2 linked regions of the Homo sapiens genome follow. The protein of the gene in region 1 interacts with the protein of each later gene in a biochemical or structural test. Each region holds a gene or a part of one and is shown on either strand. Other genes may lie near its edges.

Evidence for each region.
Region 2: the proteins of TG (region 1) and CRYM form a complex in vitro, tested with the Homo sapiens proteins (one study listed by BioGRID).

Annotation. Positions count from the first base shown.
Region 1 is NC_000008.11:132,862,276-132,870,070, reverse strand, and holds the start of TG (thyroglobulin precursor), read right to left. Parts: upstream 3,114-7,795; 5' UTR 3,071-3,113; coding exon 3,004-3,070; intron 1,957-3,003; coding exon 1,848-1,956; intron 343-1,847; coding exon 245-342; intron 1-244. UniProt on the Homo sapiens protein: Acts as a substrate for the production of iodinated thyroid hormones thyroxine (T4) and triiodothyronine (T3).
Region 2 is NC_000016.10:21,275,170-21,282,779, forward strand, and holds the start of CRYM (ketimine reductase mu-crystallin), read right to left. Parts: upstream 3,122-7,610; 5' UTR 3,083-3,121; coding exon 2,913-3,082; intron 2,416-2,912; coding exon 2,262-2,415; intron 426-2,261; coding exon 363-425; intron 1-362. UniProt on the Homo sapiens protein: Catalyzes the NAD(P)H-dependent reduction of imine double bonds of a number of cyclic ketimine substrates, including sulfur-containing cyclic ketimines.

The DNA of each region.
Region 1 (7,795 bases):
CTCAGCATGTGGCTCATGGGAGGAACTGGGTAGATATTTATTGAACAAATGACTGGACTTTCACAGTGGCCCTGCAGGAAATAGGGCCTTCCATGGCTTGCAGGGATGATTCTTATTCACAGAGGAGAAGCCAGCAGCCCAGAGGGAGGACCTGCTCAGTCACCCACCCAAACCCAGTGCTCATTCCTGGAAGTGAGTTGTCCTAGCAGGGTCCCTCCAAGGGACGTCCCCCACTCCCACTTACAAGCCACAGGCCGTCCTGGCTGCCTGCTGCCCAGCACTTCACTGCCGTTGGCACCCACACACCAGCAGGAGCGGCCGTCGTTCTGGCACTGGACAGTCCTGAGGAGGAGACACAGACCAGGTGACCCTGGGATGGGCCCCCAAAGCCACATGCCGGCTCCCACTCAGGCTACTTTTCTTCTTCATTTCCATTCTTGCAAGTTTTGGTTCGTTTAAATTAGGGAGAGAGTGGAGTGGAGAAGGGTGGCTGACCTGGGAAAGGAAAGGCCCCACTTTTCCTGCCTGGCTAGCACCTGCTCTGCCTCCTGCCCCAGCCATTCATTCACCACCTGTCCAGCCTGCCAGCCCCAAAACAAGTGACCCACCCTGGAGTGCAGGGCTTCAGCCACATCCACCAAGTGTCCTCAGGCATTATGAGGCTGCAGAGGGTAAAGGCAGTGCCCACATTGTATGGATAGGGAGTGGGGGCTTGGGGGTGGGATGTTAGTGGGATCAGGGGCCAGCAGGGTATATTGGGAAGCACATGGGTGGGGTCAGGCCAGGCCATAGAGTTGACTCCCCAGAAATGATGACTGAACTGAGACCTGCAGGATGGTCAGAGGTATAAGAAGGTAAAAGATATTCCAGGTAAAGGGAACAGCATATGCAAAGCCTCCTGAAGAGAGGCCAGGTTTGAAACTGCAAGAGGCCAGAACAAGAGAGTTGGGAATGGGAATATAAATAAGGCTGGTGAAAGTGAGACTTCCTCCTTAACTCCTTCCTTGCTGTTCCAGAATTCCCAGTGATCTAAGCAGGGACTGCTCTAGCAGCATCTCTGCACACTCGTGGGAGGTTAGGCACATTAAGAGTGTACATAAGATAGCAGCAGGGAGGGAGGTTTCACAGACATTTCCCAGAACGCAGTTATATAAATGGAGTTCCCCTGATTCAACATGACTGGAATAGCACAAGGAAATTTCAATGCATGCACATTGCAAAGGATTCCTGTCTATTCTGCAGGGAAGAATTGTCTAGATTATTACCACACTCTCCACAGAGAGGGTCTCAGGCCCCAAGTCTGCATTAGGGCAGCTGGAGAAACCCCTTTCAGAGAGCAGCTCAATGTGGAGACAGCGACCCAGAAGCCCAGAGGCAGCCTAGAGAGCTAGTCCGGGCAGGGTCGGTGGCAGCTAAGGACTAGGAAGTCAAGGCAGCCTCTGCTTCCACCACCCCAGCTTCTCAAGAGGATACTTGGAGGAGGGAGAGGTCCCAAAGCACAGATCATTTGACACTCTCCTCAACCTGCCCCACTCCCCACACGTGCCGTTTATTCAAGCCATCACAGAAAAAGTGATGGCAAGAAGAGAAGGGAGGGCAGTGGGAGGATGAAGCATGGATTGGGGTTCACTTGGTCAGATTGTCCAGTGTTGAACAGCTTGGGGAACTGAAAGGCAGGCACCTCCAAATGACAGTGGAACTGAAAGGCAGGCACCTCCAAATGACAGTGGCCAAGCCTCACATGCACAAAGGAGTTGCAGGGCAGAGCTCAGGAAGAGGGGGGAAGGCACAAGATGCTTTTTATGGCATCTTGGACCTTGAGAGTTCGCTGCTGACATAAGCCTTACTGGAAGCTGCCATCCTCTGCACACTGGGGCACGTAGTCTGCTTGCTTCAGAAAGGCCGTTTCCCTCTGCAGCTCACAGGGACGAAGGGGCTGGGCATCCACCTGGTACTCTAGGAAAAGAAAAGTGGTTCATCAAAGAAGAGTGTGGACTGGGCTGCCAGGACAGAGACGGGCTCTCATAAGCACAGATGCTTTTCCAGGGTCATCATCATTACCTATGACAGCCTATTTTAAAATTTGGCAGCTAAGCACACTTTCTTACAAGTATGACATTAGCTCATTTAATGTGCAACATTCTCCTAAGAGGTGACAGGCAATATATCCTTGTCACTCATGAGGCACCAAGTCTCAGGCAGCGAAAGTCGTCTGCCCAAAGTCACGTAACTGGCAAGTGAAGGATCCCAAAATCAACGCTGGGACTACACGTTCCCCGCCCGCCCCCACCCTGCCGCAATTCCCATGAGGCTATTTGGAGTAAGTTAGAGAACCGTAAGGAAGTTCTTCTTGAATCTATCAAGCCATGCCCTGCAGATGTAACATGTTCCAGATAAACATTGAAATACCAATTAATTAATAATGTACATGACTTATTTTTCCATTGAGAACTCTTGTAACACATAGGGTCCTACCCAGAAATCACAACCGCATCATGAGGTGTGTGTTATTTGTTTACTTTTTAAATGAAAAAAAAAAAAAAAAAACAGAAGCTTGGCACTTTGCCCGAAGTCATATGGGTAAGTGGCTGAGCCAAAGACAGAACTTAGGGCTATTTCACTTCATAGGTAGATTTCTTTTTCTACTGCTTCTAAAATACCTGTTATGGATGACACAGACTTTGGAATAGCTAAGGGGATAAAAACCCAAGGTCAATGCCAAAAGTTTGCCAAAATGGTGGGGTGAGGAGGACCTAGAATTGAATTAGGAAGATCAACCACATTTCCCATTTCTGCTCCATCAATCACTAGCTCTGTGACCTCAAGTAATTCAGTTCGGCTCTCTAAATCTGCCTCTTCATCTGAAAAAAAAAAAGCAAATCACTGACATGTGGGAATTTGTGAAGATTAAATTAGATCGCACCTGTTCGAAGGCCCAGGGCAGAGCCTGGCTGACACTGGAGCTCCCTCCCCACCGCCTGGCTCCATGGCCTCAGAACTTACCGAAGATATTGGCCGACACCCAGCAGATGGAGGCCAGCAGGGTGAAGATCTCCAGGACCAGGGCCATTTTCCTGGCCCTTCCTGGGAGGAAGGAGGAGAAACCACTGCTTGCCCTAGGTCCCCTGGCCAGGGAGCTTTTATAGAGCTGCCGTTGGCACTTTCCTTCCCACCCCCAGGTCCTCAGTGAGGCAGTGCCCCATCCTGTTTTCTCTGCTGGTCAAAAGGAGCTCCCTCCACCTGTGTCTACTCCTCCTGAGGGCACTCGTGTGGCCAGTGGAGCATGAGGATCTTGTCTAAACTGTGGGGGAACAGAACGGGGTGGGGTGACTTCAAAATCCTTTTTTATGGGTAAAGACCAAAGCTCTGTATCTTTGGAGGGAACAGGCTCAAGCCCACAGTGAGGGAAAAGCAATCCTTTGTTCTTTCCTTCCCCACCCTACCCTTTCTCCTTCTCCTTCCTCCTTCCTTCTTTCCTTTCTTCCTTTCTTTCTTCTTTCCTTCCTTTCTCCCTTCTATCCTTCTTTCCTTTCATTCTTCCTTCTTTCTTTCCTTCCTTCCCTCTTTCTTTTCTTTCTTCCTTCTTTCCTTCCTTCCTTCTTTTCTTTCTTCTATTCTTTCTCTAACAACCTCTTAGAGCTCCACAGTAGCAGGCACCTAATCTAGACAATGAGGATATGGCAGAGAACAAAACAGGCAAAATCGTGCCCTCATTAATATAGACTGTGAAAACTTTGGTGAGGGAAGCAAAATACACACACACTCATATTCATATTTCTATTACTTTCCTCTCTTTCCTAGGACCTCAGACTTTGTCAACCAAAAGATAGCAGGAACTGTGTATTCCACAGAAAGCCTGTATGTCCATTTGGTTTCTCCTGGCAAACATGGCTTCCTTCCTTCAGTCCTGTTCCTGTGAGACCTGGAAAAACTCACCTCATCTCCCTGAGCCCCAGCCTCCTTCTCTGGAAAGCAAAGTTAAAAGGAGAATAATAATATGTCCCTATTTGTTAAGGTAGTTGTAAGAGAATAGACATTGAAGAGCACATGCTTATTAGACACTAGCAGTTATTATTATTATTATTGATTTTCTTATTTTGCAAAAGCATCATGCCAGGGAATGGCAAGTATTCAGAAGACCAATCCAGCCAGGTAAGGAGCTAGTGACAGATAGGGTCAGGAACTGGCAGGTAATGAGGGCAGGTTGCTGAGCCTGGCACCTGAGGAGAGATGGAGGGACCTGTGAGAATCTGGAGGATATGGTCCCGGGTAGAGTGAAGGGCAGGAGGACAAGCTGGAAAGTGGAAGAGACTCCAAACCCTGGGGAAAATAAAGGGGCCGATATAGCTGCCGTGCCGTAGACTGTACTACCTTCCACAAATAGGGTTGCTATGAATATTAAATGTGTTAAAATATGCAAAGTGCTTAAAACAGTATTTGACACATAATAAGTATCCAGTGTTAGCTACTGTACTAGTCTGCTATGGGTGTCATCACAAACTATCACAGACTGGGTGGCTTAAGTAACAGAAATTTATTTTCTCATAGTTCTGAAGGCTGGAAATCCAAGATCAAAGTGTCAGCACTGTTGGTTTCTTTGGAGACTCCTCTCCTGGGCTTGCAGATGGCCATCTCCTCCCTGTATCCTCACTTGGTCTTCCCTGTGTGTGTTTGTGTCTTAATATTTATTTCTTTTAAGTACACCAGTCATATTGGATTAGAGCCCATCCTTGTGACCTCATTGTGCACTTAATTACCTCTTTAAAGACCCTACCTTCAAATGCGGTCACATTCTGAGGTCCTGGTTTTAGGACTTCAGCATATGGATTTGGGGGGAGAACACAATTCAGTCCATAACAGCTACTGTCATCATTGTTGGGTTCCTGATATAAACTAGAGAAAGTAAAACACAACAGTCATTTGAAGTGTCAGGGTATGGGATTAAAAACAGGGGAGAACCCGTGCTCTGCCCGTCCTTCTTGGGGACCACACATGCCTGGAACTCCCACATCTCTCTCTAGCTCAGTCTCCAGCCAGACTTTTTTGAGCTCAGATCCACTCTGCCTGGACACCCTACAGGTATTTCAAATTCAACATATCCCAACCTGAACTCCTCAACCTTTCTCCTGACATCACCCCATTGGCTGTCTCTGTGATAGTAAATCCGAGCCCCATCCTAGGCTTCTCCCCTCAAGTCTTACCAGCCTCCAGGTCCTACCAGGCTGCTGCTCATTTCTACTTCCTTGGTCCTCCCCTCCTCTGCATCCTCACTCTTCCTGCCTCCGTCACATCCCTACAGCTCAGAACGAGCCAGCCAGAACAGCCTGCTGTACTGCTCCTCACCAGGGCTTCCCCACCAGCTGCAGGAACAGTCCTCTAAAATATGGCCATCCATGTCACTTTGTAGATTCTACAAAAAGAGTGTTTGGATCCTGGTGAATCAAAACACTGTTTCCATTCTGTGATATTAAACAGCACATCACAAGGCTGTTTTCACGGGTGGGGATGGAGACTCAGCCAACAGATGCTCAGGAGGTGCCGTGGCAGGAAGATCAATTCACCCTGGGGAGTGGGAGGACAACTTGGATTAAGACCTAGATGTTAGGTAAAGGTGAGCTGGGGAGTGTATTGGCATTTACTGGAAAAGGCAATACAAGAGGAAGAACTCACCTGCCTGACTCCCTGCTACCTCATTACATAGGCCAAGTTCACCCCAGGCTATGGAGAGCTGGCAGCATCCTTCTCTCTACAGCAATATAATAAGCACAGCATTGTGCAGCCCCTGGTCATTTCTCCATTTCTACATGTTCTAAAGCAGAAAAGTCTTAGAAAAAATTGAATGTGGTTAAAGATTTACCATAAACCTCACTCACCACTCTTCCCATTGCCCTAAAATGCATGCATAAAGCTTGCACAGGTTGGCCTGTGTGCTGAATCATTCTTGCTGGCCTGGCCCCTGAGAAGCAACCCACAGACCCATGCCAGAAGTGTCTCTGCTTCACTGGGTTTGGTGCTTTAGGAACTCTGGGCTCAGGGTTCATGAAGCAGGCCAAGATATCACTGGAATGAGGAGTACTATGAGAGAGGAATGGCAGGTCTGTGAGCTGACTCCACGTCAGACCCCACCTGGAGAAGCAGCAAGGTGTTAGGAGCCTGTGGGGGAGCACCCAGTAGTCCGAAATGCAGAGGCCGCCTTCAAAATCCATGCAAAGAGCTTCCCTCCATACGCAATAGCAGAGGTGCTTCTCTCCACTCAAGCAACAAAGCAGAAAGCTTCAAGAGAATCGAGGCAATGTGTCACTTCCACCACCATGAAACCCTCTTTCTCATAATGACTCAGCTACTGGTCCCTACTTTTACCTCTTCTCCACTGAGCTCTGAGAACAAACAGGCTTCCACAGCGACTCCACATGGCAATGTCCTAATCTTTCTTCACCAACTTGCTCCTTGCTCAGGCCTCCATCACTCTGGCAGGCTCTTCATCGCTGGCCCTGCCACCTCTCCCACTCTTCTTGGCCCAAAATACAACTGCACAACCTTCTCTTTCATCTCCTTCATTTTTTAATACTAAGGTGCTTTATATAATAGGTGCTTACTGAAAATTTAGGGGGAGATGGACAGTAATAGCAATATAGAGGAGGAAATGGCTTCAAATGGATCATCAGACACCACTGTTTCTGACATCCATCCATCAGCTGTCATGCACCACAGGAAATTGCTTCCCAGTCATCTCTCCTTTAGTCCAGCCTGCCACCATATTGCTGGATCCCTGCTACCACTTATGGACAGCTTCTCCCCATCCTCCAAATACCTAGGGACACAAAGCCACAACCCGTCTTCTCCTAGGTTCCTAGGGCAATAATAAACATTTCTGGTTCTTGATTTCTCATCCCAGAAAGACAGAGTGAAAAATACACTTTTCCCTGTACCTCTTACTAAGTATAGCTAAAACCATGAATATTATACATAAAACAAACATAAGAAGGCACTGAAAGTTAGAGAGAAAAAGACTGGCTATCAACCTCAGGATCAGAGGGACAAGATATATGGTAGGAGTTTCCTGGATTTTATTCGGCCTCCTATGTCTCAGATGAGATGTTGGAGGAGCTGGATACTCAGAAATGCCAGGGAGCACAGACAAAACAAGCCCCCAGAAAAGCCTCTTGAGCCAAAGTTCCAGGAAAGGGCGGCAGACTGGTAAGACAGAAAACTTTTAGATAACAACCTCTTTACTATATCAAACATCACAGAAAATCTGTCTCTAACCCCACCAGGCCAGCAAAGGTCAAGTGAGGAGCCCAGATTTCCACACTTGTCAATCTGTAAGGAGGTTCCCCAATCCCCCTGACCTTGTTTGTCAGAGGAGACAGAATGTGGAGCTGTGACTTTTACCCTGCTGGGCGGTAATGAGCCTCCTCTTTCTGCCATGTCAATGGAGTGTAGGGAGCCTGGACTTCTGCTCCCATCCAGTGGTAATAAGGTGGCACTCTCCCCCTTGACACTTAGGTGGTGTCAGAAGAGACCTAGTGAAGAATCAGGACCTTCATAATTGCCCAGCAGTAACAAGGCCACATGATGAGCAGTAAGGAGGCAACCCTGACCCTCCCAGGCAGGGTGGCATCAGCCGAGAGAAGAGACTGAATTGCCATCCCTGCCCAGCAGTACAGAAAAGCACAACAGCTTCCAAGTGTCAATGGAGTAAGAACTTGAACTTCCAGCCCCACCTGGCAGTAATGAAGTGGCATCTCCTGTTTCCCAATGCAGTGATGTCATAAGAGTTCTTCTACAATGAGAT
Region 2 (7,610 bases), on another chromosome or scaffold:
GAGAGGTCAAGTATTAAATTCTTACTCTAGCACTTATTAGCTGTGTGATCCTGGGCAATTCACAGAAGCTCTCTGAGCCATATTCCTTGACCTGGAAGGTGGAGAGAATTTCTCATTTCGATTCTTCAAGACTGATGGGAAGATTGAGAATTATGCACATAAGGTACTTGAAATCTGGTCATGCACACTAATTGGTAGCTAATAATTTCGTGAATTACTGATATATCTGACATCTGGAGTTCCAGCTATGTCCAACAGGAAACCAAAATAAGTTCCCCACTTCTCCTTTAGTCTCTCAAGATTGAGACACCAGACCCCACTTGACAGCTCACCTTAATGGTACAGCCAGCCATTCATCTTACCTTGGTGGCAATGGCAGAAACTGCAGCTGTTCTCTTTGCAGTTATGACATTTCCATCCATGACCTTGGAGGAAAAGAGAGACAGTGAGCAAGGGGAACCCCTGTCCACTGCATAAATTAGAAGAAACAGTTCTAAAATATTAGCTTAGGAAGTTTTATAGCATCCTACAAACAGCATGGGTTTGGCGTCAGACCTGGATCCGATTCCTCCACTTACGAGATATGCAACTTTGAACAAACACTTTAATCTTTAAGCACTGGTTTCCTCACCTGTAAAAAAGATAATGCCAGCCATTCAGAGGGTTATTGTGAGGATTAAATGCACTGGCATATCTGGAAACATCTAGCACATGGTGAGCCCTCAAGAACTGCCCATTTTCTTTTCTTGCCCTAGGATTCTCAAAACACCAAATTAAGAAGGAACTAGAGAGAGAAGGTTGCCAATTGACATCTGGACAACGGCCATGAAACTCTTAGTGGCTCTCCGTTCCTGCTGCACATGTGGAAAGCTTCGTGAAGATGCTCAGATACCACCCTTAGATTAACCCAGTCTGTATCTCTTCCAGGAGTGAGACCCAGACAGCCCAGGTGATTCCGATACACAGCGAAGGTTGAAAATTATGCCTCGCTAGTAAAAACCATCCTCTGCACTCCTCTCCCTGTTATTCATCTCAGCTGATCATCAAAAAATAGGCATCATCAACCTCATTTTACAGATGAGGAAGTGAATCACGAAGTCACTGAGCAGATTCAGCTGTCATCTAGTTTCAAAGCCTTGGGTTCTACCCCCCTAGGGAACCGCTGTTGGCAGGTAGTATGAATGCCATCTCGGTTGGATGAGTGTAAGTTGGGGAAAGCTAGATATTCTCAAAGGAGTGTTAAACGGCCAGATTATTTGGCGATCCAGAAATTCAGGGGAAAAGGAGGGACATTGTAAGACCCAGCTTGGAGCGCACAGACCTTAAGAGTTAACTGTCACACCTGGGAGTGATTCTTGAGTCTTTCACTAACCAGATGTGTGACCTCAAGCAAAGTGACTCTACTAACCTGAGCCTCAAGGACCTCAACAGAAATTGGGGGGAAGGGGAGTTAATAAAAACACCCATAGAGGAATTTTGCAGAATTGAATGTGATCAGCGTCTCCTTCTTGGCACATAAGTGCCCAATATGTAGCAGTTAAAATGGCGGTGGTCTTAGAAGAGTCTGGACCTATGGACCGTGGACTTAGACTGAGCAGCTCTGAAGTCCAACCATGCTAATTGTTGGTTACATAAACCTCGGTAAGTTGAACATAGTTGCTCTGACTCGGTTTCCTCATCTATAAAGTGGGAGTAATCATATTACCCATATCATAGAATAGTTTTAAGTATTAAGAGGATTAATAAATGTGAAATGTTTAGAAAAGTGCCTGATGCATTATAAAAAGTACTCCATAAACACAAGCTACTGCTACCTTTTGAAACTATGATTAGATATTAAAACAGGTCACACCGTATACCCCTCTGAAGACTCCCAGGGATTATAGAACACCCCTTCTTTTCCATGTCGACAAGGATTCAGTAAGTAAGTCTTCCCTTGGCTAATGGGTTCATTCAAGCTGCGTATTTGGGGCAACTGAGTATAGGACAAGGACATATGCAAGAATGACAACAAGATTATTATTTCCACACTGTCACATGCTTGAGGCAGCAGTGGGCGCTGGTGCCGTGTTATGCATCCTCAGGCAGTCCTAGAAATAGATACATGGACACAGATAACCTTCACTGTTGCTGGTATCCAGTCACTTGCAGAGGGGCACGCGTAGTCACAATCAAGACTCCCCCTGCTGCGGAGAACTTACTTTTGAGCTTCAATCTGGGCCCAGGGGCCCCATTCCACCCCGGGACAGGAAGTTGCTCACCGCCAGCAGGGTGCCATTGCTGGGCTCAAAGAGTAGCACAGTAGCCTGGTGGGAAGGGACGACCGAGGTGATGCCGCGGTCCTCGTAGAAGGTGACCAACTTGGTGGTCAGTGCATCCTCTGCAGCACTGTAGGCGGGCATGACCCCCAGGTAGCTACAAGGAGAGAGGGAGCAGCTTCAGCCCCTTCCCATCAATGCTGGGGTCTCTTAGAAAGTATCCATATACTTTCCTTTTTCTTTCCTTCCTCACCACCCCACTGGCCCTCTTCCAGCCCCCGCATCCCTCTGCCCTTCCCTTAGACACTATGCACAGTATGTTCAGAAGTCTGGCTCTGGATCAGAAAACCTTTCCAGCTCTGCCACTTAGTAGCTGTGTAAGCTTAGGTAAGTCACTTAACCTCTCTGAGTCTCAGTTTTCCACCAATCAAATGGTGGTATCAATACCTCCCTAGGTGGAGAGTGTGCTGAAATAAACAAGGTAACACCTGTAAAACGCCCACTTAGCACACCGGGTAGCGCCTATTAAAAGTGGCAGCTGTTAGCAACGGTTAGGCAAGCCGTCTCTTCCCTTCTCCCACCCCTCCTCTTCCTGCTCCTCCTTTCCCCGCTTTCCAGTTTCTCCTGCCCCTGACCCCGACCCTCCTCACTCACCCCCTGTGCTTGGTCACCGGCACCACGGTGCGCACGGGCTGCATGACCCCTCCTTCGGGACCGCTGGAGAAGTTGGCCAGGGCCGTCTCTAGAGGCGGGATGAGGAGGCTGGAGCTGCGGAGGTGTTCCTCCACCTCGGCCGCGCTCAGGAACGCTGGTACCCGGCTCATCTCGCCACCTGTGCCTTCTAACCTCAGTCTCCGCACCGCGATCCACGTACCCTCGGCTGTGCCCTTTATGAGCGCGCCCGCTGCTCTGTGGAGCCGCCTGCTGGTCACAGCCCAGCCTCCGGGGGCGGAGCAACCCCGCCCCGCCCCGCCAGCCCTCTCCTCCCCCTTCGCCCACCTCGACCCCTAAGGGTGGGCGAGATGGGTCCCTTCCAGCAACGGATTCCCCAAGATGGACATCGCGGTGGCGTGCTGGGAGTCAATATTGTTTGGTCCACTTTCTCAGTTCCTGTAATCAGCTGTAGCCACATTCCTTGACTTTTGCTTCCTACATAACCCCTCCCTATTAACTCGCTTTTTGCTGCTGTCTAGGTCACCGTGCCTGGGAAAGAATGGACAGGGAAAACGCTAACGGGGCTCCTTTATTTATTAAATTACTGCCTACTGCTAGGAGATAAAAGGAGACGGAGGCTTATTTAATTTTTTTTTCCTTTTAATTCTGTCCCCGTCTAGAGTCTCTTATCCTAGTCTTCCTCCCCCCTGTACCCCCAGATGTCTGGCCTTTGATTGCTAAGAACGCACAGTTTTCTCACAGGCTAACTAACCTAACAAACCTTCGCCTTTAAAGGGGGGAAGTTTGCAGGGCAAGGTGTAATCTTTTCCATCTCACAAAAAGCCAAATTGCAGGATCTTTTCTTCCAGGAGTTTTTACCTGAGATGGGGAAATAAAATCGGAAAGGAATGATGTAAAGCTTAAGGCAATAAATCCTAGTCATCAAATCAGTGATAGGAAAAGTAAGTTAATTCAAAGAAAAGAGAGATGATTTTGACCTGGAGTGGTTAGATAAGGGCTTCATGAAAGAGTGGGGAGAAACCAAGGTCTGAAATAATAATAGTGACGACAACAATGATAACATCAGGTTATTGATCTTTACTATGTACCAGATACTGCACCATGCACTTTATGTATATTATCTCATTTAATTATACAACAACCTCTAAGGTAGGGAGGTGTTGTTATTAGTTTTACTGTCCATTGGAGGCTCTGAGAAGGGAAGAAATTTAGTTCAAGGTCATCCACCAAGTCAGCAGAGGAGCTGGCTTTGCCCATGGTTGGACTTCAGAATTATATTCCTAATCATTAAGCTACTTTGGCAGAAAGAGAGGAAGAGGGCATTACAGGCCAAGTAAAGCCCTGAGGTGGAAGGCATGTTGAATAGCTCTGGGAACAGTGAGTTGCCAGATGTGTTAGGCTGGAATAAGGTGCTGAGGTCTAGGAGCATCAGAAGATAAAACTGAGAACGATTCTTGGAGTCAGGCAGCTGAGAATGGTGATTCCTAGGAAAGAAATTACATGCTCCAAGAGAGTAAGCATTTAGAAAGATGGGTCTTCTGCCAATGCAAAGGATGGAACAGATGAGCGAGAGCAGAGCCTGGGAGAAGGTCAAGAGGCAGGACTGCTGAAGTTGTGCTTTGTGGTATTTTGGTTGGAAGCTACATAGGGCATTTTGTAGGAAATGGTCACATCATGATAAAAGACAGTGGATGAGTAAGTGTCAAAATCAGTACCAATGAAATGAGAAATTGTACATAATGTGTTTAGCAACAGTGCTTGGCACAGAGTAGCCATGTAATAAGTGAACACTGAGAGAGAAAGAGAGAGAGAGAGAAGACACTGGTGGTTGGGAAAAGCTGATTTCAATGACACAATTTTGTTTCTTCGGTTCACCATCCCTAGAAATTTATGCCCAGAGCCGCTGGGCTTATAGAAATGTTTCTGGCCCATCACGTGTGCTGTTAGCATTAATATTACATCACATTTATTGGGTTTAGAAAGCACAGACATATAGCCCTGGCATGATAGTTCACGCCTGTAATCCTAGCACTTTGGGAGGCCCAAGTGGGTGGATTACCTGAGGTGAGGAGTTCGAGACCAGCCTGGCCAACATGGTAAAATCTTCTCTCTACTAAAAATACAAAAATTAGCTGGGTGTGGTGGCGGGTGCCTGTAATCCCAGCTACCCAGGAGGCTGAGGCAGGAGAATTGCTGGAACCCGGGAGATGGAGGCTGCAATGAGCCAAGATTGCACCACTGCACTCCAGCCTGTGTGACACAGTAAGACTTTTTTGGCCCTTTGTTTTTGTGAATGTGAACTAAAAATAAAATCCTATGCCCCCCACCTACTGAATGAACCCCCTCTGGGCCAAGCAGACCCCAGAAAAACCTTAAAGACTTAGTTTCCAGCCATGATGGGATGGCAAATCAGATATGCCTCATTACATCCTCTCCCTTTTAGAGTTTAGACACAACTGAGCAGCCTTAATGTTAATACAGAGATCACAAGACTGACAGAACAGACTCTTTGTGGCAATACGATAACAAATTATAAACAGGATCTAAGGCCATGCCAGGAAGGGTTAAGTCACGCACCCTTACACTTAAAGAAAAAAGCTATGTTCTAACTGCCACAGAGTTTTTGTTTTCTCCAGCAGCTAAACAAGCACTGGCTTGAAGATAAGCAATATTTTTGTTTTTGTTTTCCCCAGCCCTGCTCAGAGAAGATAGGGAACATGGCTTGGGCACAGTGGCTCACACCTGTAATCCCAGCACTTTGGGAGGCCAAGGCGGGCGGATCATGTGAGGTCAGGAGTTTGAGACCAGCCTGGCCAACGTGATGAAACCCCATCTCTACAAAAAGTACAAAAATTAGCCAGGTGTGGTAGCATGTGCCTGTAATCCCAGCTACTCAGGAGGCTGAGGCAGGAGAATTGCTTGAACCAGGGAGGTGGAGGTTGCAGTGAGCCGAGATCGTGCCACTGCACTCCAGCCTGGACAACAGAGTGATTCTCTCTCTCTCTCACTCTCTCTCTCTCTCTCTCTCTCTCTGTATATATATATATACACAAACATATATGTATATACATATATACGTATCTATGTATCTATATAGATATGTATATGTATCTATGTATCTATATAGATATGTATATATGTGCATATATATATATATAAATTTTTTTTTTGAAACAAAGTCCCTCTCTGTCACCCAGACTGGAGTGCAGTGGCATGATCTCAAGTGATTCTCCTGCCTCAGCCTCTCAGGTAGCTGGGATTACAGGTGCATGCCACCACCCCCGGCTAATTTTTGTACTTTCAGTAGAGATGGGGTTTTGTCATGTTGGCCAGGCTGGTCTCGGTCTCGAACTCCTGACCTGAGATGATCCACCCGCCTTGGCCTCCCAAAGTGCTGGGATTACAGGCATGAGCCACCGTGCCCGGCTGAAGATATGCAATATTAAAACAATTACAACTCATCCAAATCACAGATATTGACTAACCGACCCCTTGTTCCACCAGCCATAACTACAGCTTGATTGGACAAGAGACTGATTTCAGTAACTTTCTCCTGATAAGACTACCGACTATAGGATGGTTCTGGCTGACTTACAGAGGTTGCACACTTGCATGCCTTCATGTCCTGAAAAGACCTTTTGACGTATCAGGCTGAATTGTAATACATTTAAATGCTGCAACCACCCCAAAATGAACATGAGTTGTATGTAACATGCATGTTTGTTAAATACACATGCATCAGGACCACTTTCATGAATATTCATAGCTTCTTCTCTCACCTGTTGAATATGTATATTTAGCCAACCTGTTGAGCATAAAGCTCCTACCCCAACCCTCCTCCTTCAAAGTGCCTGTCTCTGATCTTGGCCAAGGCATGTGATATGGTTTGGCTCCATGTCCACACCCAAATCTCTTCTTATAGCTCCCATAATTCCCACATCTTGTGGGAGGGACCCAGTGGGAGATGACTGAATCATGGAGGCGGGTCTTTCCCCTGCGGTTCTGATGATAGTGAATGAGTCTCACGAGATCTGATGGTTTTAAAAATGGGAGTTGCCCTGCACAAGCTCTCTCTTTGCTATTGCCCTCCATGTAAGATGTGACTTGTTCCTCCTTGCCTTCCACTATGATTGTGAGGCCTCCCCAGCCATGTGGAACTGTAAATCCAATAAGCCTCTTTCTTCTGTAAATTGCCCAGTCTCAGGCATGTGTTTATAGACAGCATGAAAACGGAATAATACAGCGTGCTTCCCAGCATAGGATCCCACCTTGCAGGCTGTAACCTCGTATAAGAAAGTCTCTTCTTGTCTAAATTTATAAATTGTGTGGTTTTTTTTTTAAAGTTAACAAGGAGAAAAAAAGCAAAACCAAATACTCATCAACTAAAAGAGATATGAAATAAGAAAGCCAGATATTTATTTGCTTCCATAGTAAATTCAGGAATTTAGCCCCGATTAAATAGAAATCTTATTTCTGACTCCCACATTACTAGAAAGTTTATTAATCTTCTTTAAGTCATGATTATAATAGTAATTTCATTATTTTAACAATGACAAAATAAGAAACCTCAATAATAGGAATTCACTCCAGTGAATCCTGTAGAAACAGGACAACTCTGCAAATCATCTCAAATCATCTTCCTGATAAAGCTTTGGTTCACATCACCCAGGTCCTCAG